2 linked regions of the Homo sapiens genome follow. The protein of the gene in region 1 binds, or shares a complex with, the protein of each later gene. Each region holds a gene or a part of one and is shown on either strand. Other genes may lie near its edges.

What was found.
Region 2: DDX39B (region 1) and THOC3 share a complex: the UniProt entries of both Homo sapiens proteins name them as parts of the transcription/export (TREX) complex.

Annotation. Positions count from the first base shown.
Region 1 is NC_000006.12:31,532,004-31,535,503, forward strand, and holds part of DDX39B (spliceosome RNA helicase DDX39B), read right to left. Parts: intron 3,483-3,500; coding exon 3,364-3,482; intron 909-3,363; coding exon 777-908; intron 1-776. UniProt on the Homo sapiens protein: Involved in nuclear export of spliced and unspliced mRNA. Component of the TREX complex which is thought to couple mRNA transcription, processing and nuclear export, and specifically associates with spliced mRNA and not with unspliced pre-mRNA.
Region 2 is NC_000005.10:175,965,516-175,969,619, reverse strand, and holds the start of THOC3 (THO complex subunit 3), read left to right. Parts: upstream 1-1,304; 5' UTR 1,305-1,411; coding exon 1,412-1,678; intron 1,679-2,352; coding exon 2,353-2,509; intron 2,510-4,104. UniProt on the Homo sapiens protein: Component of the THO subcomplex of the TREX complex which is thought to couple mRNA transcription, processing and nuclear export, and which specifically associates with spliced mRNA and not with unspliced pre-mRNA.

The DNA.
Region 1 (3,500 bases):
TACTATTTGTAGAGACGGGCGTCTCCCTATGTTACCCAGGCTGGTCTTGAAGTCCTGGGCTCAAGCAATGCTCCTGCCTCAGCCTCCCAAAGTACTGGGATTATGGGCATGAGCCACTGCCCTGCACCCAGTCAGAAATGCTTCTCTTGAATAAGCAGTTATTAGAGGAATTAAACATTCAAGAACCCTAACATGCCCCCAAACATCGTTTCAAGACTTTTAACAACTTCCTAAAATCCTTCAAGGACTTTTGGAGACAAGATCTCACTCTGTTGCCCAAGCTGGAGCACAGTAGTGCAATCATAGTTCACTGCAGCCTCAATTTCCTGGGCTCAAGCTATCCTCTCACCTCAGCCACCAGAGTATCTGGGACTACAGGCATACACCACCACACCTGGCTAATTTTTTTCTTCTTTGGTAGTGATGAAGTTTCGCCATGTTGCCCCGACTGGTCTCAAACTCCTGGACTCAAGTGATCCACCTCCCTCAGCCTCCCCAAGTGCTGGGATTACACACATAAGCCACCGTGCCTGGCCAAGGATCTTAATTTTTGAAGTTTATTTTCCTTGAGGTTATTGAGGACATACCCGTGCCAGCCATAGAATAGAAAAGCAGCTCCCACCTTACTCATGCTCAGCCCCTAAGATATTTATACCCTCATTATTCTCTCCCACATCACACATGTGATTTCCTCAATAAAAGTGTACTTAATATCCAGGTTTCTGCTACAGCTGGAGTGCTCCAATGCTCATCCCCCTACTGGACGTCTAACTGACCTGGTTGAACTCAAGGACATCCAGAAGGTCAAAGAGCTTCCGGTTCTTCTCGTTGTCCTTCAGTTTCACGTAGTACTGCTGCAACCCATGCAGCGTCAACTTCGTCTCATCATCCACGAAGATCTCCATTGGCTGGGGGGGAGGAAGGGGGTGGGGAACGGGAGGAGGGCAGAGTGGGGGGGTTAAACCTGGGGGGGTGGAGGAAGTTGATCTCCAATACACCCCATGGGGGGATGGGGAGGAAAGAGAAGATTGAAAACCCCACCCCACTCCCAAAAATACCCACATTTTACTGTGGTCTCTCTCACATTACATCTAATTTCCTTCCTATCAGATGAGTTTTAAGACTGCCCAACTAAAAACTATCATGGGAAAGAAACTGCAAATGAAGTCAAGGAGCAGTGAAACCACCCAATGGCACAGATGCCATTACCTCAAATAGAGGTGGGAGAGGAAAGAAAATGGGAGATGATTCTCAAAGGGAGAGCAAGGACCAAACATCTGGGAAATGATGGGAGGCAGTGACTCAAGGTCAGAATAACTCCATCAGAGGTGCTTCTAAGAACATGGGGTGGGGGGAGGACAACTGCTCCATTTGATTCTCCTACTTCAACTAAGAGAATCTCGTGTGCATTAGCAAAGTGGATGTCTTTTAAGATCAGAATGCTGCAATGGACAGTCAAAATGCCACTTAAGGAGAAACAAAAATTACTCAAGATGAGTTACTTGCCGTCAGACCACAACAGGATAGTTTTAGATGAGACTGGTCTCTTGACTAAGAATTAAACCATCTACAGGTTTACAGGAAAGGTATCAGTAAGTGGTGTTAAAATACCAAATTCAGAGCAGCAGATACACTTTTAAGGGACAGGATCTCACCATGTTGCCCAGGCTGGAGTGCAGTGGCTATTCACTGGCACAATCATAGCACACTATAGCCTCAAATTCCTGGGCTCAAGTGATCCTCCTGCTTCAGTCTCCTGAATAGCTGGGACTACAGGCACACACCATTATACCTCACTGCATTCATCTTTAAAATTAAAAAACCCCCTGAAGGGGAGGAAAGTAACAAAGACAGAAATTACCACAACTCCAAAGCCCAACTTTCCTAACACTTTTTATACTATCCTGGGGGAAGATAGTTAATATGAAGACCCAGAGGACAAAATAGGAAAGGATGCGTGTGTCATGGGAAAAAAACCAGAAGCCCAATCCCAGAAGGCAGGTTTTGTTTTTTGTTTTGTTTTGATACAGGGTCTCTCTCTATCACCCAGGCTGGAGTACAGTGGCACAATTACAGCTTACTGCCACCTCCACGTCCCGGGCTCAAGCAAACCCTCCTGCCTCAGCTTCCCAAGTAGCTGGGACTACAGGCATGCGCCACCACGCCCGGTTTTTCTGGTAGAGACAAAGTCTCACTACACTGCCCCAGCTAGTCTCAAATTCCTGGGCTCAAGCAATCCTCCCACCTTGGCCTCCCAAAGTGCTGGGATTAGAGGTGAGCCACCAGGCCCAGCCAAGGCAGGCTTTCTAAAGAGAAGTTCCATGGCCTCCTTCAAATCTCATTCTAGCCCCAAATACAGCTAAAGAGTGATCATCCCACGGGAAGGAACACTGCAGGGAGGGGAAGAACACACTCCACTGCTTATGCAATTGGCCCCACCTAGCCCCAAACCCTAACAACCACCCGATTACATCCACTTTACCTTTCCTATGTCCCTCTCCTCTGAGTATTAAAAAAAACAAAAAAATTTTTTTAAGAAAAAAAATCTACCACCCCATTCAGGACACCCCTCCCCAACACATATTGGGGGAAACGGGGCACGGCACGCGTTGGGTTCAGGAAAAAAACCGGGAACGGAAAAAGAGGCTGGTTTGGTCCTCAGCTTCCTGGTCAGGTTTCCCCGCGGCCTCCGCTGCCGCCATCCACCGCTGGGTGCCGTCTGCATTCCCTCGCCGCGCCACGGTGCTTCTCTGTTGCCGGCTCACATCAACCGAGGTTCCAGATGGGTGCAAGGAGATGTGGGTGGGAAGGAGTAGGGTATCGGGGATTGAGGTGCCAAAGGCCCCCACCCCTGGAGGTGGGGAAGGGGAGGATTCATTTGTGCTGATGCTCTTCTTTTGGACATGCCCTGCCATCTGTCTGTCCCTCTCTTGCTCTCCTGCCACCGGGAAGTAGGAGTTTTGGTGAGCAGAAGGCTCCAGCTGTACGCTCGATGCCACCTTGAGGGTGCGTGGCTGTAGGGTGCATGTAAGAGACGATGGATGGGTGGGTGGTAGGGCAGAAAAATCCTGCCCTCCCCCAAAGGGAGAAGAGGTTCAAAAATGTTGTGATTTATGAAAAAGTCGAACACTACCCGCTCTCACATTAACCCGACCAAGTCTTCCGGAGTTTCCCTGGCACCCGCGCAGGCCCTAACACTAGCTGTCTCTGCTTCTGTATGTCTCTTCAAGGAGTCATTACTCCCAGTTGGGCACAAGCCGCCTTCTTGGCACTTGAATGACAAGGGAGTCTGAGGAAGAGGGCGAGGAAGGGGAGGAGGCAGCGGGCGGGGAGTGGAGGGAGAGAAGGTAGAAGGGTATTTACATCTTGCATGAACTTGCGGCAGACTGGACGGATCTCTTTGCTCAAGGTAGCACTGAACATCATGACCTGCTTCTCGTGGGGGGTCATGCGAAAAATTTCCTGGACATCCCGACGCATGTCTACAAGAACAAGGAAAA
Region 2 (4,104 bases), on another chromosome or scaffold:
GAGGGAAGCTTTTCAATCTATTCCCTTTTATACATTTTACATTTGTTACCAAGTGCACGTGTTGCCTTTTAAAAATTGGGTTTTTAAACACATTTACCACTACTACTCACCACCAAAACCTTCCCCCCTCAGCTCTTCTCCAGGGCCTTGACTGGCGCTGGCAGCTCACCACCCCTTTTTTCTCCAGCAAGAAGCCACTGGTTTAAGGGAGATATGAGAGGTGGGGTGGATACGCAGGTGGACATTTACTTTTCACTCTATATCTTTTATTTTTATATTTACAATCATGTGCATGTAATACTGTTACAGGAAAAGGGTCCCAATCCAGACCCCAGGAGTGGGTTCTTGGATCTCACTCAGGAAAGAATTCAGGGCAAGTCCGCAGTGCAAAGTGAAAGCAAGTTTATTAAGAAAGTAAAGGGAATAAAAGAATGGCCACTCCATAGACAGAGCAGCCCCGAGGGCCGCTGGTTGCGCATTTTTATGGTTTTTCCTGATGATATGCTAAACAAGTGGTGGATTATTCATGCCTCCCTTTTTTAGACCGTATAGGGTAACTTCCTGACATTGCCATGGCATTTACAAACTGTCCTGGCACTGGTGGGAGTGTAGAGGTGAGGATGACCAGAGGTCACTCTCATCGCCATTTTGGTTTTGGTGGGTTTTGGCCGGTTCCTTTACTGCAACCTGTTTTATCATCAAGGTCTTTATGACCTGTATTTTGTGCTGACCTCCTATTTCATCCTGTGATTAGAATGCCTTAACAGTCTGGGAATGCAGCCCAGTAGGTTTAAGCCTCATTTTACCCAGTTCCTATTTAAGATAGAGTTGCTCTGGTTCACACGCCTCTGCCATTACCTTTTAAAAACAAAAAATCCATTTTTATTTAAAAAAAAAAAACAAAACCTCCAGACCCCTTCTTAACACCTCTTCCCTCACTCCACACCCGCTAGCCCTTTTCATGGGACAAGCTCACCAGCTGGTCCTTCTCCAGCAAAAAGACCAGAGCTTTCTGCTCTTAAGGGAGGGGACTAGGGATTACGGAACAACCCCAGAAGAAAGGTGATGAGTTAACTGTTTAGAAGGTTAGTGTTGGTTCTTTTATTCGATTAAACAGGAATACACATATATCTACCAAAGAATAGGTAAGGGAGAAATAAGAACACTAAAAAAACTCGGAATCGTTAAGTGTGAAGCATATTTGGAGTTAAAAGAACCAAATATTACTAAGTAAGCAGACGCGGGCACGCGCTGCATACCGGGATTTGTAGTCCCTTCCGGGGCGGGGTACAGCGCGCCTGCGCAGAGGGGCCGTCGCTCTTCCGGGCGCATGCGTGCGGCAGCGGCGCCAGGACTGACTGCGCCGTGGAGGCTGCTGCAGTGTTGTGAGTTGGAAGCTGGGGAGCTCGGCATGGCGGTCCCCGCTGCAGCCATGGGGCCCTCGGCGTTGGGCCAGAGCGGCCCCGGCTCGATGGCCCCGTGGTGCTCAGTGAGCAGCGGCCCGTCGCGCTACGTGCTTGGGATGCAGGAGCTGTTCCGGGGCCACAGCAAGACGCGCGAGTTCCTGGCGCACAGCGCCAAGGTGCACTCGGTGGCCTGGAGTTGCGACGGGCGTCGCCTAGCCTCGGGGTCCTTCGACAAGACGGCCAGCGTCTTCTTGCTGGAGAAGGACCGGTTGGTGAGCTGCCGGGGCTCGGCTCAGGCTAGGGAGAGGGGCCGTGGTGAAGTGAGGTGCGGTAGTGGGAGAGCGAATGGGGGCGAACGGAGCCGCGGGGGTGAAAGGAGAGTGGGTTTGAGGGAAGGGGAAAGGGGGAGTGTGGAGATGAGGAGGGAGTAGGGAGAAGGTGGAGTGTGGGGGTGACGGGGTCGTGAGGGGTGAGGAGAGGAAGACTGGGGGCGTGTGAAGAGTGTGGAAGTAAGGAGGTTGGCGATGGCGGGTGAAGGTGAGGAGAGGGTGGATGGGACAGGGCTGCGATGGGAGCCTTACTGGTTTGGAGTCGAATCCTGTGCTGATAAGAAGTGGCTAGGGGCTGTGGTGGTGGTGGTGGTGGTGGTGGTGGTACGTTGGTGGTGGTACGTTGGTGGTACGTTGGTGGTAGAGTAAGGGTGGAAAACCAGGAAGGAGGAGAAGGCCAGGGAGGGCACAAAAGTAAGGGCATAGGTGTGGAAGCTGAGAAAAACAGTTCAGAAGGCCTGCGGAGAAGAGAAGGGAGAAAGGGCTTGGAGGAACTGGATTCTGAATTACCCAGATCTTTACTGGTCCCAGCATACTTTGGTTTGAATAAGCTTATAAAGTTACATGCGGAGGCAGTTACATCTATGTGAAGTCACATCTGGATTCTGTTCTTTCAGGTCAAAGAAAACAATTATCGGGGACATGGGGATAGTGTGGACCAGCTTTGTTGGCATCCAAGTAATCCTGACCTATTTGTTACGGCGTCCGGAGATAAAACCATTCGCATCTGGGATGTGAGGACTACAAAATGCATTGCCACTGTGAACACTAAAGGTGACTATTCAGAGAGAGGGCAATAGGAAGATAAGCTGTTTGGATTCATTCAACAACCATTTTCCGAATATCTTTTCTGTGCTTGGCACTCAGCTGTGTATGAGACATCCTGAGCTGAATAAGAGTTTCCAGCTCCAAGGACCTCCCCTGCGGGGAGAAGACATATATATACAAATAACATAGCAAGATATGGTTCATTTTATAATGGAGAGGTCTGCAAGGTGGATACCCAGAATAGAAATGAAAACAAAAGTCTGCCTAGGGGAGCCAGGGAAGGCCTCACCAAATTTGAGCAAACTTTTAGGGTAGCCATAGGAGTTGAGTGGTCAGGGTGCTGTGGGTGGGGAATGGGACATTTCCAGGAGGGAACGGCATGTGCAAAGGCATGGAGAATTTGGAAAATTCTGATGAGTTAGAATGGTTGAAACTTGGATGGTCTTGGTGATCTGGGAGAAAGTTGTGCAGTACATTTATAGGCTCTGTTGTAAGTATTGAGGCCGATATTGTATGGGACTCTGAGTTTTCATTGATCGTAAGATGTTCCATTAGGAAAGAAAGTTGGTAAATAACTGTGATACACCCAAAATTTTGAAATGCTTTCTGATACATTTTAAGATACAGTGTAGATACTAAAATGTGAGAAAATATGCGTTTTAGAATGGAAAAAGTTGGTGAGATTTTTAATTGATGTGTTCAGTGTGGGCCACTGGACTTTGTTGACAAGACTTATCTCTGGAGGCGGAATGGTGTGGTTTTTCCCCAAGTATACAGCTGCTGATCCATGAGTGATTCAGGTGATGCGTGGGTGAACATTAAAAACCAGTTTTGCAAATATCTTAATGTCTACTAGAAGAACTAGCACATAGAATTTATTATTCAGTTGAAGCTAAATTTATTTTATTTTTATTTATTTTATTTTATTTTTATTTTTGAGACAGGGTCTTGCCCTGTTACCCAGGATGGAGTACAGTGGCACAATATTGGCTCCCTGCAGCCTCCACCTGGGCTCAAGCCATCCTCTCACCTCAACCTCCTGAGTAGCTGGGACTACAGGCACATGCCACCATGCCTGGCTAATTTTTTGTAGAGACGGGTTTTGCCATATTGCCCAGGCTGATCTTGAACTCCTGGACTCAAGTGATCTGCCTACCTTGGCCTCCCAAAGTGCTGGAATTACAGGCTTGAGCCTCCACAGCTGGCTGCTAAATTTATTTAAGTAAACTTTTTTGAATCAATTTTAAGAAAAATCTTGAATAAAGAAAAGTATAGTGTTTAATGGATAGGACAAAAATTGTGATGTTGGCATGCGAATGGCTGGAGTTGAGAAATGCTGGTGTAAGAGAAAAGGGGGCTTTGGGGTCAAATCTGGGTTTAAAATCTTGGCTTGGCCGGGCACGGTGGCTCACGCCTGTAATCCCAGCACTTTGGGAGGCCGAGGCGGGCGGATCACGAGGTCAGGAGATCGAGACCATCCTGGCTAACACGGTGAAACCCCGTCTCTACTAAAAATACAAAAAAATTAGCCTGGTGTGGTGGCAGGCGCCTGTAGTCCCAGCTACTCGGGAGGCTGAGGCGAGAGAATGGCGTGAACCCAG